Linked DNA regions of Homo sapiens. The protein of the gene in region 1 purifies or fractionates together with the protein of each later gene. This does not show direct contact. Each region holds a gene or a part of one and is shown in the gene's direction. Other genes may lie near its edges.

Region 1 (5,050 bases):
GAGAACAATAGTAATCATGATAAATAATAAAAATAAATTATTACAATGATTAATAACACATTTTGAGTGAGTGCAAATGTGCTAAGACCTTTTTATGGATCAATACTGGGTTATCTTATTTTACAACATAGACTTATAAAGCAGTATAACGATTTTCTCCACATTAAAAGCAAAAAACAGAGGTGATGTAGTCTAAGGTCACACGATTGGTGACAGAGCTGAGCTTTGGACCAAGGTTGTCTGGTTGTCTGGTTGGACCAAGGTTGTCTGGTTCCAAATACTTTCAGTTGAACCAATGCTATGTTGACTCTTAATGGACAGGTAGATGTAGGCAAGTGTGTAACATACTTAAGTCCTGGGACAGTACAATTAGAATAGACAACCAGTCAAAATGAGCATTGATCATTATGCCCTTCTTGTATCCACTGATTGTTAAGCCTTGGCTGGTGAATGGTTTAAATGTCTGGAGTGTGCACTAAAAAAGAGTCCGAAGCTCTTCTGTGTTCCATTTTCTGCAGCTGTGTGTAGAAGATCAGCCTGCACTTGTGTCTGTGAGCATGAACCAGTGCCCCTCAGACTGGAATTCCTAGCATGGATAGTAAGATTTTCACATTTATTTCCCTGTAACAGCCTGGACGTCTGTTTTTGCTTCTGTATCTTGAAAGCTTCTATTTAAATTGTGCATTTTTTCCCACGGAGTCTCATACATTATGTGGCACATTTATCTGGGACTGTTAAGATTTCCCCCCTAACCCATTGAGGTATTTATGGGGGAAGATTATGCTTCTATTAGTCCAGAAAATACCTAAAAAGAGAGCATATTTTCTCAGGTTCTTTATGAACTTCTGGGAAAAAATGCATCTTTCCAGATTTTCCTAGGGATCTAGAATCTTGTGACATGAGAAGAAGAAAAAAATTAAACAGGATAATTAAATTTTCTGCTCTGTAGCAACTCTAACGGGAATAGTTAACTCGTCCCCTTCTTCCATACAGCAGGACTTTGTAAGGTAATGGCCTCTTGATACAGCCTCTTATGCCAAGAAACATGTTTAAATAGTTGTCCTTGAAATTTACCAAGCTTCCAAGCTCACCATTAATTGTGAAACGCTGTATTAATGACAAAGCTGAAAGCCATTTATGAGTGTCCACAGCTTAAATAGAAGCTGTCTGTCAAACATGGTTAATTCTCCACCACAGTGGTAAACATGCTGGTAGCAGTTTTAGGACAGAGCAGACTAGTATCTCTGTAAGCTAGCAAGGGACACACAAGGGACTCATAAAGTTTTGTAGTCTTCCTTTAGTCACTTCCTCTTAAGTTGTCATTTTCTGTGACTATGCACAGGTTAGCAACAGCTCCCAGGAAATTCAGGGGAGGGCCTGGGCCCTCAATCAGAAAACCACTGCACTACCTTCAGTGAATGTAGTAACTCAGCAACCCCTTTCCTATTTGGGTTCCGTGTCTCGTGATTGCTGTGAAACCGGCAAATGGCAGCTGAGCAAACTCAGCTGTTAATGATCCGTTAACAACAACACTTCTTCCTTACTCTGGCTCTATGCAAAGTTGTCCTACAGCTGTTTAGGGCTCAAATTGCTCTTGAATGAGAATTGAAATTGCAGTTCATCTATAGAATTATCTTTTGGGGAAGAAAGAGTGAAGATAGACTGAAAATATGTTGCCTTTTACAATTTGTTATTTGGAGCACAAAGGGTTAACAGGACACAGCTGTAGGGAGTTCTCCCCTAGGAATTTGCTTTTCTGCTGGGTAAATGACTCTCACCAGGTGACTTCTAGGCTCCTTATAAAGGCTGTTTTTCTCAAATCTGGTAGTTCTCCTATTCCTGAATTTTTTCCCTATGTTTTCTCCTGGCAGAAGAGGACCTCTTTGTCCAGGGGCAGGGCTGATCAGGGGCTGATTCCGCAGCTATAGTAGTACAGAACCTTTCTGCAAGTAAGTTAGTGAGGTTGAGATAACTCTCTCTCACTTGCTTTGCATTAATAGATTCTCTGCTGTGTGGGATGATCCTTCAAATAGCAGGGGGCAGGATCAAATAACCTCACCTTCCAGACCCAAGAATTCTGTGCACAAGGTCAGTGTTGTAGTGCATTGAAGACAGTTATAAATAAATTAGGTACTGTATAACCTTCAGATAGTATATGAAACAAACGCGGAAGTATTCAGAGTAAATGTGAGCATGAACTCAGTAGTGTATTTTCATACGTTATGTCAACTCAAAAATATCGTTGTAGCGTTCAAAATAGTTATTCCAAATATAGACTACAGTCATCAGCATGTGTTTGTTCATGCCACAGTAAAAAAAGAAAAAAAAATTTAAATAAGGAGTTTGCGAGAGCATGGCGTTTGGAGTAAGAACAGAGCTCAATTCCTGAATCTGCCATTGGCTTGTTGGGTGAATTTGAGAACGTCGTATGTTTCCTCTGAGACTCGATTATCTAATCTTACCCTGCTTTCTCACCCATAAAGGGGAGTTATTAATACCCAATAATGGTGTTGTGATAGTAATGAATGTGAAGCTTTGTTGTGAGGGCTGTCTATTTAGATGTTCCTGGTAGTCTGGTAATAGGGATGTTTAAGTTATAGGCTCTGTCATGGAAGAATTCTCAGTGGGGGAGAAAGAGACACTTAAAGAGAACTGTTTAAGAAGAGTTTAATATTTGCTCATTAGTTTTAGCGCAGGACAACTCAAGACTGGTTTAAGAATCACAGAATTTTTTTTAAAAAGCTATTATTGGCCGGGAGCAGTGGCTCACGCCTGTAATCCCAGCACTTTGGGAGGCTGAAGTGGGCAGATCACGAGGTCAGGAGATCGAGACCATCCTGGCCAACATGGTGAAACCCCATCTCTACTAAAATACAAAAAATTAGCTGGGTGTGGTGGCATGTACCTGTAGTCCTAGCTACTCGGGAGGCTGAGGCAAGGGAATTGCTTGAACCTGGGAGGAGTAGGTGATTGTGCCATTGCACTCCAGCTCCAGGAGCAGGGATGGTGGGGGCGGGTGGTGGTGGTGGTGGTGGGGGGAGCTGTTCTTGGACCCATGTTTGCTAATAGAGTTCCCTCTGTTACAAGAATCCTATTACGTTTCCCTTTGATTGCAGGAGTTGAAGAAAGATTCTATGAGCTATGTACAGTGGAAAGGGGGACTCAGATTCAGTGAAGTAAATTGTTTGGCACGTAGAAGGCATTAAATACATTACCACTAATTTTATTAGAGAGAAATATAGCCAAGTACTTAATCTGTTGGGTTTTTCTTTTATGTTTTATTTTTATTTTTGCTGTTTACAATATAGCTATTCTATTTATTTTTATTGTGATAAAATCACACTTGTAATCCCAGCACTTTGGAGGCCAAGGCAGGTGTATTCCTTGAGTTCAATAGTTCAAGACCAGCCTGGGCAACATGGTGAAACCCCATCTCTACAAAAAATAAAAAAAAATTATCCAGGCATGATGGTGTGTGCCTGTAGTCTCAGCTACTTTACAGGTTCTTTACTTGGCGAGCTGAGGCAGGAGGATCACTGGAGCCTGGAAGTTTGAGGCTACAGTGAGCAGTGATTGCGCCACTGCACTCCAGCCTGGGCAACAGAGCAAGACCCTATCTCAAAAAAAAAAAAAAAAAAAAAAGACAGAAAGAAAGAAAGAAAGAAAAGAACACTTAACATGAGATTTACTCTAACTTTTAATAGCACAATACAGTATTGTTAACTATAAGTAAAATGTTGTATATCAGATCTCTGGAACTAATTCTTCTTTAGTAACTGAAACTTTATACCTGTTTAACAGCATCTCCCCCATTTTTCCCTCTCCCTAGTCTGTTGCAATCACCATTCTAGTTTCTGTTTCTATGAGTTTGGCTAAGAGATACTTCACATATAAGTGGAATCATGAAGTATTTCATTTCAGGTTCATCCATGTTGTAGCATGTGTCAGAATATTACTGCTTTTAAGGTTGAATAGTATTCTATTACATGTATGTCTTGTGCTTTCTTTATGCATTCATTTGTTGATGGACATTTAGGTTGTTTCCATATGTTGGCTATTGTGACTAATTCTGCAATGAATATGGAAGTGCAGATACCTCTTTGACTAACTGATTTCCTTTCCTTTGGATATATACTCAGAGTGGATGTGCTGTTTTTCACAGTGGTTGCATGATTTTACATTCTCTCCAACTGTGTACAATAGGTCCAATTTCTTCTCATTCTTGTCAACACTTGCTATTGTTTTTTATAATAAGTATTTTCATAGCTATGAGGTTATATCTCACTGTGATTTTGATGATTTTGATTCACATTTATGTGATTAGTAATGTTGAGCATCTTTTTATATTTGTTGGCCATTTGTATGTTTTGTTTGGAGAAATCTCTATTCAAGTCCTTTGTCCCTTTTTAAATTGAGTTATTTGTGTTTTTGCTACTGAGTTGTAGGAGTTCTTTATATATTTTGAATATTAACCCCTAATCAGGTATTTGGTTTGCAAATTGGGTTTATTTACTATAATAAAAAGAACATTAAATTGAGAGGCTGCTTCCTCATTTTTAAAATAAAGAGTGTATGACCTTGAGGTCATTACTTGCTCTCCACTTCAACTGGGAAAATAAATGTTTTTATCACTAGGTCCAAATCTGAGCAAAGTCCTTGTCTCAAAGATAAATATCAGATTATTGAGAAAACTGCTTGTTTTCCTCCTATGTTGAAATATGTTTTTATGATTGCATGAATTTAACTTATAATTTGAGGGGGCCACATATCGGGAATCACACATATGTGGAAATATTAAGCACTGGGGTTTATCACTATTTTCAGAAGCAGTTCATTCATTCATTTAATAGATACTTTTAGATGCTGTTGTGCTAGCCATTTTTTCTGGCTCTGAGATCGTAGGTCTGAGAAAAAATGGTCCTTATATTTTCCTGGGAGTCATTTTTGCCTTAGTGGCCATGTCTCCTCAGTTTCATTAGAGGACGCTTCTTCTGGTCTTTTCTTTAAATACTGCTGTTCCCCAGCACTCTGTCCTCAGACTTCATTTCCC
Region 2 (4,441 bases), on another chromosome or scaffold:
GGTTAATTTTTATAGTTTTAGTAGAGATAGGGTTTCACCATGTTGGCCAGGCTGGTCTCAAACTCCTGACCTCGTGATCTGCCCACCTTGGCCTCCCAAAGTGCAGGGATTACAGGCGTGAGCCACTGCGCCTGGCCAGTTCATGGCTTTTTGATGTTGCTTAAAGCTCCTAACCCTTTTTTTCCCAAATAGTTGCTTGGAATGATTTGATACATGGAAGCTCTTCTGTTATCTTGGTATATCATAATTTATTCAAATCTTTTTTATTATTGGGCAAAAAAATAAAATTTCAAATATAAAGTCTTATATTTGTTTCCTTTTGAAACCTCATTGAGGAGAAGCTGGACATCAGCTCATGAGTGCTGCATGAAACACTTGCAGTGATTTTGGTAAAAAGAACTCACATTTTTATGTACCCTCTCTTCCAAAAAAGAAAAAAAACCCTGAAGTTTAAAAAGTCTTTATTCGGCTGGACATGGTGGCTCACACCTGTAATCCCAGCACTTTGGGAGGGCGCGGTGGGTGGATCACGAGGTCAGGAGATCGAGACCATCCTGGCCAATGTGGTGAAACTCTGTCTCTACTAAAAATACAAAAATTACCTGGGCGTGGTGGCGCAGGCCTGTAATCCCAGCTACTCAGGAGGTTGAGGCAGGAGAATCGCTTGAACCAGGGAGTCGGAGGTTGCAGTGAGCCGAGATCGCGCCACAGCACTCCAGCCTAGTGACAGAGCAAGACACCGTCTCAAAAAAAGAAAAAATTTATCCAAAAGTAAACAAGATAGCAGGTATAGGAGGGAGACATTATTAGCAAAATGTAAAACTCTTGAAGAAGAAACCGTATTGTTTTTGTAAATGCTTTTAAAAAAAATTGTTGTTACCATAATGTTAGAAAGAGGCTGAACAGGCTGGACGTGGTGGTTCACGCCTGTAGTCCCAGCACTTTGGGAGGCTGGGGTGGGCAGATCACCTGAGGTCAGGAGTTCGAGACCAGCTTGACCAACATGGAGAAACCCTGTCTCTACTAAAAATGCAGAATTAGCCGGATGTGGTGTCGCATGCCTGTAATCCCAGCTCCTCGGGAGGCTGAGGCAGGAGAATCGCTTGAACCTGGGAGGCGGAGGTCACGATGAGCCGAGATAGCGCCACTGCACTCCAGCCTGGGCAACAAGAGCGAGACTCCGTCTCAAAAAAAAAAAAAAAGGCAGGGGGTGGGGGAAGAGGGTGAACAAGGGGACAGTAAATCTGTAGGTGAATAATAATCTAAACCATTCGAGCCTTTTAAAATGTCAGAATTTCCTCATCTTTATCTTTACAGATGTAAAGAAAAGTTCTACCCACCTGACCTGCCAGCTGCTAGTGTTGTTATCTGTTTCTATAATGAAGCGTTTTCTGCCTTGCTTCGGACAGTGCACAGTGTCATAGACCGCACGCCAGCACACCTGCTTCATGAGATCATCCTTGTGGATGATGATAGTGACTTTGGTAAGGAATGCTGCACCTGGTAACATTGGATCCAGGCTGTCAGTCACTACAGCACTGACAAACACTAACACAGCTGAACTTTCAAGTACGTGGTAGGTGGGGATCCTACACGTGCAGTCACAGCTGGGCTGACCACAAATAAGTCTGAAGAAATCCATTATCTTTGTAACCTGCTTATAAACTATGCTACCCAAATTTGGGCCGTGAAATTTTTTCCGTGGCTTACTTTAAAAAACACACCTCTTTTTATTTGAAATAACTGTAGGTTCACAGGAAGTTACAAAGACGGCCTATGTACCTTTATCCAGTTGCTCCATCATAAAATTCCCCTGTCAGAACCAGGAATCCACATTGGTACAGTGTGTGTGGTCCAGGGTCATTCTGTCACACAGGTGGACTCCCACAACCCTCACTGCAATGATACAGAACTGTTTCCTCACCCGGAGGGCCCTTGTGCTGCCTCTTTCTAGTCACACCTCCTGCTTTCCTCTACTCTTCCCCAGTCCCTGAAACCACGACTCTATGATTTTGTTTCCATCTCTGATTTTGTTATTTCAAGAATGTCATATAAATGGAATCACACGGTATGTGACCTTTTGAGATGGGCTTTTTTCATTTGGCATGATGCCTTGGCTTATGCTTCTCTATTAAGTCTCTTACACTGATCGTCCCCAGATAAAAGTGGATTGCATTCTGATAGCTCCTCAATGATCTCTGAATGCCAGTATTTTATGATTCACTACATATTCTATATTCTGTACGCCTTTCTTAATTCAACATAGACTCTTGCTAAGAATGGCTTTGTGTACCCAAACAGGATAGAAGGCTTTTTATTACACTGCTCATTCAGCTCTCAGTGACCTTGCAAGAAAGGCTGGAAGCCCATTTTATAGAGGGAGAAATATAAAAAGTAATTTGCTCAGACCCCATAGCTGTTAAGTAGTAGAGTGGAAATGAGACCTCTGGTCTGCATAGCTCCAAGCCTTCTGCTCTTTTCATGACAGCAGGCTGCAGGAACACAGTGGTACAGGTGTATGCCAGTGACTTTTTCATGCACTCGAGCGTTTATTAAGTACCACTTGTATCAACATCAGAGTTGGTATACCAGTATACTTAAATATAGAAGGTAAAGAAATGGAGAGAGTCATGGGAGCAAAATTCTCAAACCTTGGCCAAAAACAAACAAACAAAAAACCTAATAAATAAATCTGAGTCTGGACCACGTAGAAGATTGGTTACATACTGATTTCTAGAATTTATGGTTGGTTTTTGTTTTTTTTTAAGTCAACTTGTATTTTGGTTTTCACTTTGTGGCTATTTTACCTAAAAGGAAAAATTCATAATTTGAGGTGGTTTGTATATTAACTATGGAAAGAATTACTGCTTATTATCTTACACGATCTTTCAAGTTATTCTGAAATATACAGGTGAATGACATAGAATTCCTTAAAAAATATTTAGCAACCTTGGAAGAAAGATGCTAAATTAATAAAAGGACATATTCAATGCTGTTCTTGTTATTCTTGGTAGGGGCAATAGAAGTTGTTTCTTAACTATTTTGAAATGGACTAAGACTTAATAAATTCCTTTGTAATAAAAGGCATTTATATCTCATTTTCTTTGTTATCAATGTGATTTATATATGGTCAGCTGAACATTTATGCACTCAAAATACTCATTTCAAACATTCTTTGTGCAAAGCATTGTGCTCGATGCTATGGAGATACAAATAAGTCTGTAACTAAAGTAAGTATTCCTCTTTGCTAGTATTCCAGCTCTTACCCTTCATTTCTTTTTCTTCCTACAGGATAAGCTACAATACTCTTTTAAAGTAAAATATTCTGTAGTATTTGCTTGATAGTTTGTTGTAAATTTTAGCAAGTACTAGATACAACTTTAGAATAGCTGTAAAGTGTCTTTATATATGTCTCATACAGTTTGAATAATTGTGGGACTTTATTTTCAGATGATTTGAAAGGAGAACTAGATGAATATGTCCAAAAATACCTCCCTGGAAAAATTAAAGTCATAAGAAATACAAAGCGTGAGGGGTTGATTCGAGGGAGAATGATTGGCGCGGCCCACGCGACAGGTATCACTTCTCGTTAGCTTTGCTCTACAGGTGTTGGATGACAAGGGCTCGAGCCTCAGCGCCTGTCCTGATTCTGCAAAGTCTATGAAGAGTAGTGTTTCAAACGGACATTGCCAGCAGGAGAGATGAGGCTTGTTCTGTTTGGGAAAGACCTGTTCATAACGCCAAGCCTGCCATCCCAAAGCACATAGTGCAGGGGGCTGAACTCTCAAATCCTCAGTGTCTATTTTCATAGCAACCCTTCTTTGATACTTACTGCCCCTCAAATATATTTTATATCTTATTCACTTATATAAGCAGAAAAGCCCAGACCAAAATGTAACTGAATTTTTATGTTTTTAAATACAAAATTTAAAATGTATGAACCCAAACTGTCGATTGGAACTATGCTTTTAACTCTTAGTGCGGAGTGCATCCCTCTGGAGCCACACATCATGACTTTAATTGGTTAATGGACGTAAGATTGACTTACAAAACTATAAATGGCATTTTCTTTAAAATTCCCTCTTAATCCTTCTGATTCCATCAAGGAGCAAGTCTCCGTTGTTACTAGTATATTTCCATCATACACTGCTCTCCCCCTTTAAAAAGAAATAACCGATCTCAAATTCAGTCTTCTGCAGAAAATATATCTGGTTAGTCTTCAGTTACGTTATATTGATTCTGTTGTATTTCGTTTTATGGTTACCTATGTGTAATTGGTCTCCCTGAGTTTCATTTATGACTGTAATTAAAACATTTTTAAATAAATGTAATTAAAACTAATGAATCTGTTTAAAAATGTTAGGCATGTGATATTGCAGGTAGGGCATGGACATGGCGAAAAAATTTTGAAAATCATTTGAGAATGATGGAACTTGGTGGG
Region 3 (4,985 bases), on another chromosome or scaffold:
AAGACCAGGACCCTGGTAATGGGCTTCTGTCCTGGACAGCCTACGCCTAGGTGTGCCCACTGTTCCCACCTACTACTGAAGCAGCCCCCGTGCCTGGAACGTGGGCTCAGGGTTCTGGCTCAAGGCCTTTTGGCCTTGAGCCTGAACATTTCTGCCCCTTCCTGCCTCTCTCCTCTCCACCCCCACCCCGGCACCCAGGTTCCTGCCTCCTGGCTTCTGCCTGTCTCCCTGGGTGTCTCTGAATCTGCCTCGTCCTCTCAGCACCGGTCCTTTTCCTGACTCGTGTGTGTGGCTGTCACGTCCCATATCTATCTGTCCATTTCTTTGTATGTGCCCCCACTTGTCTTCTGGGCTGCCAGTGACAGCATACACCTGTGTATGTCTCAGTGTGTGTGTCCACCTCTGTGGGTGTTTGCTCTCTGCCAAGACAAAGAGAGGGTGAGCGCACTGAGCAACTGTCTGGGTGTGCTCGTCTGGGTGCAGGTGTGCTCACCTCTGTTGCTGTGCTCCTCTGTGTGTTGGGGTGCCGCTAGGTGTGCGCCTGTCTCTGTATTTCGCTCTGTGTGCCCTGTCCCCGTGAAGGCATCTGCGTGCATCCCTGGGGTGGGCTCTCAAGGGATGTGTCTGTCTCTCAGTCTCTTTGCTTGTCCCTATCTCTGTCTAGGTGTTGGTCATACCACAACCTCAGCCACAGCCTCAGTGCATAGCAACAGCTGACAGCTGAAACCACCCGGGCAGGAGAGAGAGAGGCAGTGGGGAGGAGGGAACCGAGGAAGAAACAGAGAAGAGGATGGGGGCAGAGAGCTGGGGCTGGGGACAGAGACAAGGACAGAGATAGGGAATGGGGACAAGGATCTAGAAGAGCTGGTGGTGAAAGATGGGACGGCGGGAGGGGAGGAACAGAGACTGCACCAAGAGGCCAGGCAGGCGGCGCTGAGAGGGATTTCCTGCCCAGCCCCCATGCAGAGGCGCACTGGGCCTCGTGGGGGTCAGTGGTGGGGGCCAGGGGCAAAGGTGAACAGCCGGTCTAGCCGAGGGGTCCTGAGACCGCAGAGGTGCGGTGAGGCGGGGACGGGGCGGAGGGCGCCGTTTGTCAGCCCTATTGACAGACGTGATGGGGTTTCCGTCCGTGATCAATGATTCTCATCTCCGGGCCGAATGAGCCGCGGGGCGCCCATCCATCCCCGTCAGCATCGCGCGGCGGCAGCCGCCCGAGGCCCCGCCCGTCCCCACCTCGGCCCCTGCCCTGCGCCTGCCCCGACACACCTTGGCCCTGAACAGGGCAGAGGCCCGGGGCTTGGAGAGCGTCGTCCGGCTGGGCTCCGCGGCGCCCCCACTCCAGGTGCACGGGCCCGGAGCCCAGAGCCCCACGCCCTGCCCCGTTCCTCCTGGGCGCACAGACGCGGCCTCTCGGGGGACCAGTGCCTGAGCCCCTCGACCCCCTCCGCTTCGCACCTGGGCCAGGGGCGTGTCCGGGGCGTGCCGGTGTGAAAGTCACCTTCGGTGCCCCCAGCTGGGCGGGAGGGGGCGCGCGGGGCGCGGCCGGGATTGGAGCGCCGCGGAGCCCCGCCCCCCGCCCGCGGAGTCAGACCCAACTTTCTCCCCCGCCCGCGCCCCGCCCCCAGCGCCGGCTCCGCGCCTCGCGCCCAGTCCGCGGGCCGCGCCGCCGCTCCCGCCGCTCCCGCCGCTCCCGCCGCTCCCGCAGCCGCCCCGCCGCCCGCCCGGAGCCCCGCGTCCCTAGGCCTGGCTCCCGCCTGCCCGAGACCCGCCCAGCCTGCCCCGCTCAGCCGCCAGAGAAGATGCGGCTGCTCCCGGAATGGTTCCTCTTGCTCTTTGGCCCGTGGCTCCTTAGGAAGGTAAGAGTGGCAGGGCTGGGGCGCTAGCGCGGGCGCGGGGTTCCGGGACGCGAAGGTCCCAGTGTGCGAGGGGCTCCGTGCGCCCGCCCCGCCCCCAGCTCCGAGCGTCCCAACTTTGCGCGGCGCGGGGGAAGCGGACAGACAGACTGCCCGATTCAGGACGGGCACTCTCCTAGCGCAAGTTGGCTGAGGCTTGGAGAGGGTGCCGGGCGGAGGTCCCCCTTGCAGCCGACTTCAGGCGCGGCGGGGGAGGGGACGAAGCCCGACCCGCGAGTGCGCCAGACAGAGCGGGAGTGCGAGACAGACAGACAAGCCAGCAGGGTGTCAGCCTTGCCGTCTTTCCGCGCCAGTCTCGCTCGCCTGCCTCACTGTCTGTCTGTCCTTCCACCCCTCCACCCCCGCCTTCCCATTTCTCTTCTCTGCACTTGTCACCATGCCAGGTGGGCTCTGTGTCGGGAGCATCCATGGCCCGAGCACACACGCACACACGGACTCAGGCAGACACGGCTGAACTTGGCTACAGCCAGCCTCCCATCACATTTCCCACGGAGACACCATCTCCCCTGCACGACCTCACAGACACACCCCCCTCTCGTGCCCCACTGAAGGGGGAGGCTGTCTGGAAGGGGAGTCTCTCCTCCCATGCCCTCCCTGCCTCCAACCCCACTCCAAGGCCTCTTTCCCTGAGGCTCTCGGGCGAAGAGCCAGAGGCTAAGGGAGCTCAGACTTGATCTGCCTCCTTCCTGACTTGGAGGCTTCAACCTGCGAACATGCTGTGCTCATATGTGCTGGGTGGAGGGCGTGGGTCACCGTGTGCACCTGTGTGCATGTGTCCAGGGAAGCCAGGCTTGGTCCAGTACTGGGGCCGAGGGTACATGTGTATACTGGTGTGGTGTGTGGTGTTGGCTTTGCATGAGTGAGTGTCAGTGCCTGCCTCACAGTGCAGCCATCTGCCTATGCCCCTGGTGTGTGCCCGCAATGGGGGCCCAGGCCCCAGTCCCCCATTTTCCTTCTACCAGCCTCCCCTGCCTATGGCTTCCCTGTTTTCTGACCCCCAACTGTGACCTACCTAGTTTGGGGGCAGGCAGGTCATTCCCCAAACCCTCATTCTCTGTACCCTCAGCCCCTGTAGAGTCTAGAAGGGGTGTATTTCTTCCCCCAACACTTGGACCTCTGCCTGCTCAGCCAAATCACATTTGGCAAACCCCAGCAGGGCAGGGGCTGCCCCAGTGAAGCTAGCATTAGAGCTCCCTGGCCCTCCCAGCCCCACCTGGTGACCTTGAGGGGCTGCACGGTAGGCAGAGGAGCCCCTCCATGAAAACTGCTTCCACTAGCAGGAGCTTCTTAGGGACTTGCTGCCCAACTCTGTCCTTAGTGAACTGGAGGAGTGGGGGGGGTCTGTGCCCTACCACCCACCCACCCATGTGTGAAGGCCTGGGGTCAAGAGGTGGTAGGTATGGCATTCTCTTGCCCCTCCTTTCCACTTCCTCCCACCTCATCTCCACTCTCCCAGGCAAATAAACTCCCCTGTGGACAGATCTGGTTTAATTTCCTTTGCCCCCTGAGGGGGAATGAAACATCTGGTGGAGACTTGAGTGAGAGTGAGCGTGAGGATATGAGCAATGGGATCTATCTGAGTGTGTGTGTGTGAGCTGCAGCTGTGGGGCCTCCGTGTTGGAGTCAACAGGGAGAGTGGATCTGCTGGTTAGCCCAGCTTATGTGCATGTGAGAATGTGTTTACATGTGTACACACTGCGGGTGTGTGAATATGTATAACTGCACGGGGAGGTGTGGGTATATGAGTGTTTGTGTGTCCAAATACCTGTGTGTGCTTCTGTGCACTTGTGAGTGTGGCGTATGCACATGTATACCCCGGGGTTTCTGGTGCATCTGTGTGCTGGGGCCCATGTGTTGTCTGTATGAGTCTCTGGGGTTTGTGAGTGTGTTTCTGTGTGCTTGTGATTGTGAGTGCATTTGAGTGTGCTATGAGATTGTGAGCCTCAGGATGTGTTTATGTATCTGAGTGTGGCTTATGTGTGTGGGTGCTCAAGGGTGTCTTGGTGCCAGCACTGGGAGTGGGCAAAAGGTGAGGCTGATCCTGGGTAAGAGGTGGCTAGGGGACAGTTTACAGGGCAACTTTTTGGCAACCCTAACCATGAACGGCTGACACCTCTGCCTCTCCCGTCCTGCTTGCTCACCCTCCTCCAGGTTTCTCTCCCTTCCTCCTCACTCCAGGCTTCCCATTTCTCAGAGCCTGGGACTCCTGGCTTCCACTGCCTCTGGGGTTCTGGCCTCTCAGCCAGGGATTCTTGAGGATCTTTCTCATACAGTCTCTGACTCCTTTCCCTCTCTCTCTGTCTCCCCGACCCCTTGCCAAAGCAGCTGCCTACTGGGAGAAGCAGCAGGCGATCAATAGTCACTAATCACTAATCACTAATTACTAATTAGCTGGGGGAGGGCAGGGGCGGGGCCCTGTGGGACCTGCCAGCTCTATCCCGCCTCAGGAAAGGATTAGGTCTGATTCTCTTAGAGCTGGCTGGCCGAAGCCCCTCAGCCAGCTACCCCCTCCTGCCTCCACACCCTCCTCTAGCCCCCCAGCTAATCTCTGCCTGGGCCACTTAGGCACGCACAGCCTGGGCTAGGGCCCAGAGCTGCTGCCGGGGATTTGGGGGTAATCAGGGGCCGCAGCTGGGCCAGGGGGACAGGGGAGGGCCTGCTGTGACAGCTCCCTTGGGCCAGAGCCTGCAGTGGAAGCCTCACATTCCTAATAGGAGGGGCATGCGTCAGAAAGGAGAATTTAGAGTGTCAGGGTTGGGATGGGTAGAGGAGCTGGAGACCCAGGAGCGGGGTGACTGGCGAAGAGGTGAGGTAATAAGGACAGAAGCAAGGCAAAGAGGGGTCAGGGACGAGGTAATTGGAGAGAGACAACACAAACGTCTAAAGAAAACAGGTAAGTGGGGGGACCTCACAGGGGTCAGAGATGGAGTAATTGGCAAGGAGATGGGGAACTTTGGACCTAGCCCTGCAACTCAAGATGTGTGGGATCCGTGAGGGACAGGGCAACAGAGAGGGGGCAGGGTCATAGGAGAGGGTCCCAGGGCTCAGGCGCAGGAGGAGTCGCAGGGCGTG
Region 4 (4,441 bases), on another chromosome or scaffold:
AATCCAAAACTCCAACCACCCAGTAAATACTTATTGAGTACTTGTTCTGTGACACGTACTAGTCTAGGCTCAGCATATATAAAACACAACATAAACTTTTGGAGAAATTCACATTAGGTACTAGCTAGTTACGTAAGGCATGGTTACTCACTTCTACTTAAAAATTGCTAATTGCTTTCCATCATATTACTCGAGCTTTATTACCAAAAAAAAAAAAAAAAAAGAAGAAAGGAAAAGCCCACAGTAATCTGCTGGTCCTACTTCCTTTGCCTTACTGACTTAACCTTCCACTCACAACATGGCTTATCCCACCCAACCACAGTGGCCTCCTAGCTGTTACTTATTCCCTTTATGTTTACATCTCAAAATCTTTGTACTTAACATTCCCTTGGTCACACCTCTCCTTCAGATATTTGCATAACATATTACCTCACCTCTTTAAAATCTTCTCTGCCCTCATCTGCTTTCCAGCCTCTACATATTTTCCATATTCACATTTTTCACTAGTATTTAAGGGGTGGGAATTTCAAGGATCCTCTTGTTCTCTTCTGTATTAAGAATTAATATAGAATTTAGTGGTGGGAAGATAACTTAGCCTTTTGAAAATATCATTACTTATCAGCCTTTCAATGTATATCAATTATTTCCAAAAGAATGCTGAAATAATAGTTATTGTGATATTCTTTTCTTCTTGATATAATTTGTCATCACAAGAATGTAGGTGTATGCTTTTGTGATCATTTGTGTTTTGTACAAATGCCACCATGCCGCTTGGCTGTAGAACTATGATTTTGAAGAACTAGCAGCTAAAAGTTTTGATTACTGCAGATCTTACACTTTAATACTGTGTATGCCTCTGCTGAGTAATTCACTGAATTAGCATTTCTCCTCTTGCAGCAAGTTAAGATAAGCTTTTTGTGAGTCTGTGTCTTTTAAAATCTTGCCCTAGGTTATGCTTTGTCTACTTTATTTGTATCTGTTTCACTAAGATACAGTTTTTCAAAATACTACCTTGTTCTAGCAAGAGCTCAGTGAGGTTGGCATTCTCTTTCACTGCTTGGGTAAGTGTATAACTCTTTCTGGGAACATATATTAAGAAATTTATATATTTACATCCTCTGATTTCATATGTAGGAATCTAACTCAAGGAAATTTTTGTATGTTGATGTGTATATATAAATGTCTTTTGGTGGTAGAAATTATGAGGGTTTTCAGCTTCTCATTCTTTTCTATTTCTTCCACACTTCTTTAATGATCATCTCTTACTTTCTTACTTTTCTTTCTACTTACCTCCCCTCTTTTTCTCTGTTCCTCCCAGTACTTCATTGCTTGATTTCTCTGAGTATTAAAATGGTAGGCCAGGCGTGGTGGTTCATGCCTGTAATCCCAGCACTCTGAGAGCCAAAGCCAGAGGATCACTTGAGGCCAGGAGTTTGACACCAGCCTGGTCAACATTGTGAGATCCTGTCTCTACAAGGAAGAAAATATTGGGCAGGCATTGGTAGCTCATGCCTGTAGTCTCAGCTACTTATTAGACTGAGGTGAGAAGATGGTTTGAGCCCAGAAGTTTGAGGTTACAGTGAGCTATGATCATGCCACTGTAATCCAGCATGTGTAACACAGCAAGATCCTATCTCTTAAGAAAAAAAAAAAAAAAAAAAGATTAAATACAATCATGTATGAGGTTGGGGGGTTATATGGGAAATATCCGTATCTTTAGCTCAACTTTGCTGTGAACCTAAAACTGCTGTTAAAAAAAAAAAGAAGAAAAAAAGAAAAAAATACCTTTAGAGACATGGAGACAGACAGAGTGAGTGAGTCGTAGCTTCCAAAGAAGAGACTAAGATTTTGAGGAGATAATATCTGGTTCATATTAGGAACTCAGTAAATATTTTTGAATCATTGTATTGTTTTACTAAGCAAATGTTCCTATTTGAATGAAAAAGTAGGCTGTTGTAATTTGACTATGTCATACCACTTAAGAATCATGAAAACTACTCAGGTATCTAAGAAAGATGATGTATTTCTCTGGATAAATGAATTTTTTTTAGGACTGAAAGCATTTTTTCTATTAAGTGTGCATGTTTATGCCTAGCATTTATATGAAGCTACTAAATAAACTCTTTTAAAGAATCCTAATGTCATCCCCCAATGAATAGATTTGTCGCTGCTCTTCAGTGTACTTTTGCTATTAGCATATGTAGTTAGTTGTTTATTTCTTTTATTGCAAGAAGATGGCATTACTAAATTTCTGTAGATATTTTTTAAAGTATCTTATTCCTAAGAACTTCATTCTTACTTGTTCAATAATTGTTTGAATTGCCTTTTTGCTTTAAAGTATTATATTTTATCTTATAAATTACCATAGTATCCAAAATGGTTGTGCCCACGTCTGTTTTTCCACTGCATGGAATGAAGTGGTTTAAATCTATTTTCTTTCTCCTATAGTGGTTCCCCCTGGAAGTCCTGGGCCCATTACTCGACATGGGTCTTACGACAGTTTAGCTTCTGACCATAGTGGACAGGAAGATGAAGAATGGCTTTCCCAGGTAAAACTCTGAAATATTGAGAGTATTAAAGTAAAATAAAACAGAAATTTACTGTTTTTATTCTTTTCCTTAGAGGTAAAAGGGGAGAATTGGTAACTCTTTATTGGATTATCAAGAATTAGTTGTCTTTCCATATTACAAATTACTCCACAAATATTGCTGCAGGTGTACATATACATATTATATATACATTATACGTGTGTGTATATATATATATGTTAGCTTCCATAAACATGGCATAAAATTTGTGTATTTTTCACACAATCCATTTAAAGCCTTAGGGCCTTGGAATCAATTAATTTATTAATTTTTGAGACAGAGTCTTGCTCTGTCACCCAAGCTGGAGTGCAGTGACACGACCTTGGCTCACTGCAACCTCCAATTCCTGGTTTCAAGCGATTCTCATGCCTCAGCTTCTTGAGTAGCTGGGATTACAGGCATGCACCACCATGCCTGGCTAATTTTTGTATTTTTAGTAGAGAAGGGGTTTCGCCATGTTGGCCAGGTTGGTCTTGAACTCCTGACTTCAAGCAATCCACCCTTCTTGGCCTCCCAAAGTGCTGGGATTACAGACGTGAGCCACTGTGGCCAGCCAGGAGCTTGGAATTTAAATAGGCTCTTTGGAACACATTTTCATCAGGTTTAAAATAAAAGTTGACCTTGATGAAACAGTGAAGCCACTCAGCAATCTTTGGGATTTGTTTTGTGGAGCCAACATTTTCCGAAGATTGAGTTCATACTTTCATTATTGGAAATATAACATTCCACCCTGCAGAAATTCTGATGGTGCCTTGGTTTCCTTTCCTAAGCCCATGTAATGCTGCTTTTAGTGGTCTCTAAGCCAGCCCTACAACATTGCTGGGACTGCAGGCACGCATCACCATGCTGGCTAATTTGTTTTTTTTGTTTGTTTTTTAATGTAGAGACAGGATCTCCCTATGTTGCTTAGGCTGGTCTTGAACTCCTGGGCTCAAGCAATCCTCCTGTGTTGGCCTCCCAAAGTGCTGGGATTACAGGCAAGAGCCACCATGCCCAGTCTCCAACAGCTTCACTGACCATCCCTCCCCTTGCCAGGTGAAGCTGTCTTCATCTCAAGGGCTTTGAAATAAAAGATACTTGGGCAGATGTCAAAATGATGGGATTACAAATGACTTCATTACAAATGCTGTTATGTCTGCCTCAAGTCTGACATCATTTTATGAAGCTAATGACCTATCTCAGGTTACCAATCTGACAGCTTTTCATCGGACAGGTGCCTCAAAAATGTGGAGGCCATTTGTAGTTTCATTTCTTTCTCAAGGAGGGTAGCCTGAAAACTAAAGTCTGGAAAATCAAAAGTAAAGTAAACTGGAAAATCAAGCAGTGTCTAGGTAACATGTATTTATTTCATCACACCAAAAATATTCACAGGAAGTTCCTTGAAGGAAGTTGATTCTTCAGTTCCTGGCATGTGGCGGTCCATCCTTTCTTAATGTTAGGAAGATAAAGTAAACCCCAAATGTGTGTTTTTTCCAAAATCAAAATGTTGTCCAAGGAATGCTGGCAGAGAAACCACTGTCCTTCACTTCAACTTTTCAATTAGAAAAAGGGGTAATGTGTGCTGTCAGTGTGAAAGTATATACAATGTGTTTGTCCGGCACACAACAGGAGAGTGAATAGGAACATCTGGCCATCGCCTCGGTGAAATTGAACAGGCATCTGTTTACCTCTGGGCTCTGTGACACTGATGGTTTTGAGCTTAAAGTACACAGAATGCTTTATCTGTGGCCTAATTTACATTGCTGAATACAACTACTTGAATCAGAAATCACTGTCCTCAATCTGAGCATTTTTCTCCCTGTGATTAGTAGGAATGTGAATATTGTTCCAAAGACCATGATGCTTTTGCCCTT

What was found. Proteins that work in one complex are often made in the same cells at the same time.
Region 2: the proteins of MMP26 (region 1) and GALNT11 purify together in Homo sapiens (affinity purification with mass spectrometry; one large-scale study listed by BioGRID and IntAct). This does not show direct contact.
Region 3: the proteins of MMP26 (region 1) and NXPH4 purify together in Homo sapiens (affinity purification with mass spectrometry; one large-scale study listed by BioGRID and IntAct). This does not show direct contact.
Region 4: the proteins of MMP26 (region 1) and BCAS3 purify together in Homo sapiens (affinity purification with mass spectrometry; one large-scale study listed by BioGRID and IntAct). This does not show direct contact.

What each region holds. Positions count from the first base shown.
Region 1 is NC_000011.10:4,702,958-4,708,007, forward strand, and holds the start of MMP26 (matrix metalloproteinase-26 isoform 1 preproprotein), read left to right. Parts: upstream 1-1,826; 5' UTR 1,827-2,088; intron 2,089-5,050. UniProt on the Homo sapiens protein: May hydrolyze collagen type IV, fibronectin, fibrinogen, beta-casein, type I gelatin and alpha-1 proteinase inhibitor. Is also able to activate progelatinase B.
Region 2 is NC_000007.14:152,101,795-152,106,235, forward strand, and holds part of GALNT11 (polypeptide N-acetylgalactosaminyltransferase 11), read left to right. Parts: intron 1-1,317; coding exon 1,318-1,484; coding exon of another isoform or gene 1,485-1,507; exon of another isoform or gene 1,508-3,098; intron 3,099-3,450; coding exon 3,451-3,576; coding exon of another isoform or gene 3,577-3,593; exon of another isoform or gene 3,594-4,341; intron 4,342-4,441. UniProt on the Homo sapiens protein: Polypeptide N-acetylgalactosaminyltransferase that catalyzes the initiation of protein O-linked glycosylation and is involved in left/right asymmetry by mediating O-glycosylation of NOTCH1.
Region 3 is NC_000012.12:57,215,171-57,220,155, forward strand, and holds the start of NXPH4 (neurexophilin-4 precursor), read left to right. Parts: upstream 1-1,623; 5' UTR 1,624-1,799; coding exon 1,800-1,856; intron 1,857-4,985. UniProt on the Homo sapiens protein: May be signaling molecules that resemble neuropeptides and that act by binding to alpha-neurexins and possibly other receptors.
Region 4 is NC_000017.11:61,072,472-61,076,912, forward strand, and holds part of BCAS3 (BCAS3 microtubule associated cell migration factor), read left to right. Parts: intron 1-2,448; coding exon 2,449-2,549; intron 2,550-4,441. UniProt on the Homo sapiens protein: Plays a role in angiogenesis. Participates in the regulation of cell polarity and directional endothelial cell migration by mediating both the activation and recruitment of CDC42 and the reorganization of the actin cytoskeleton at the cell leading edge.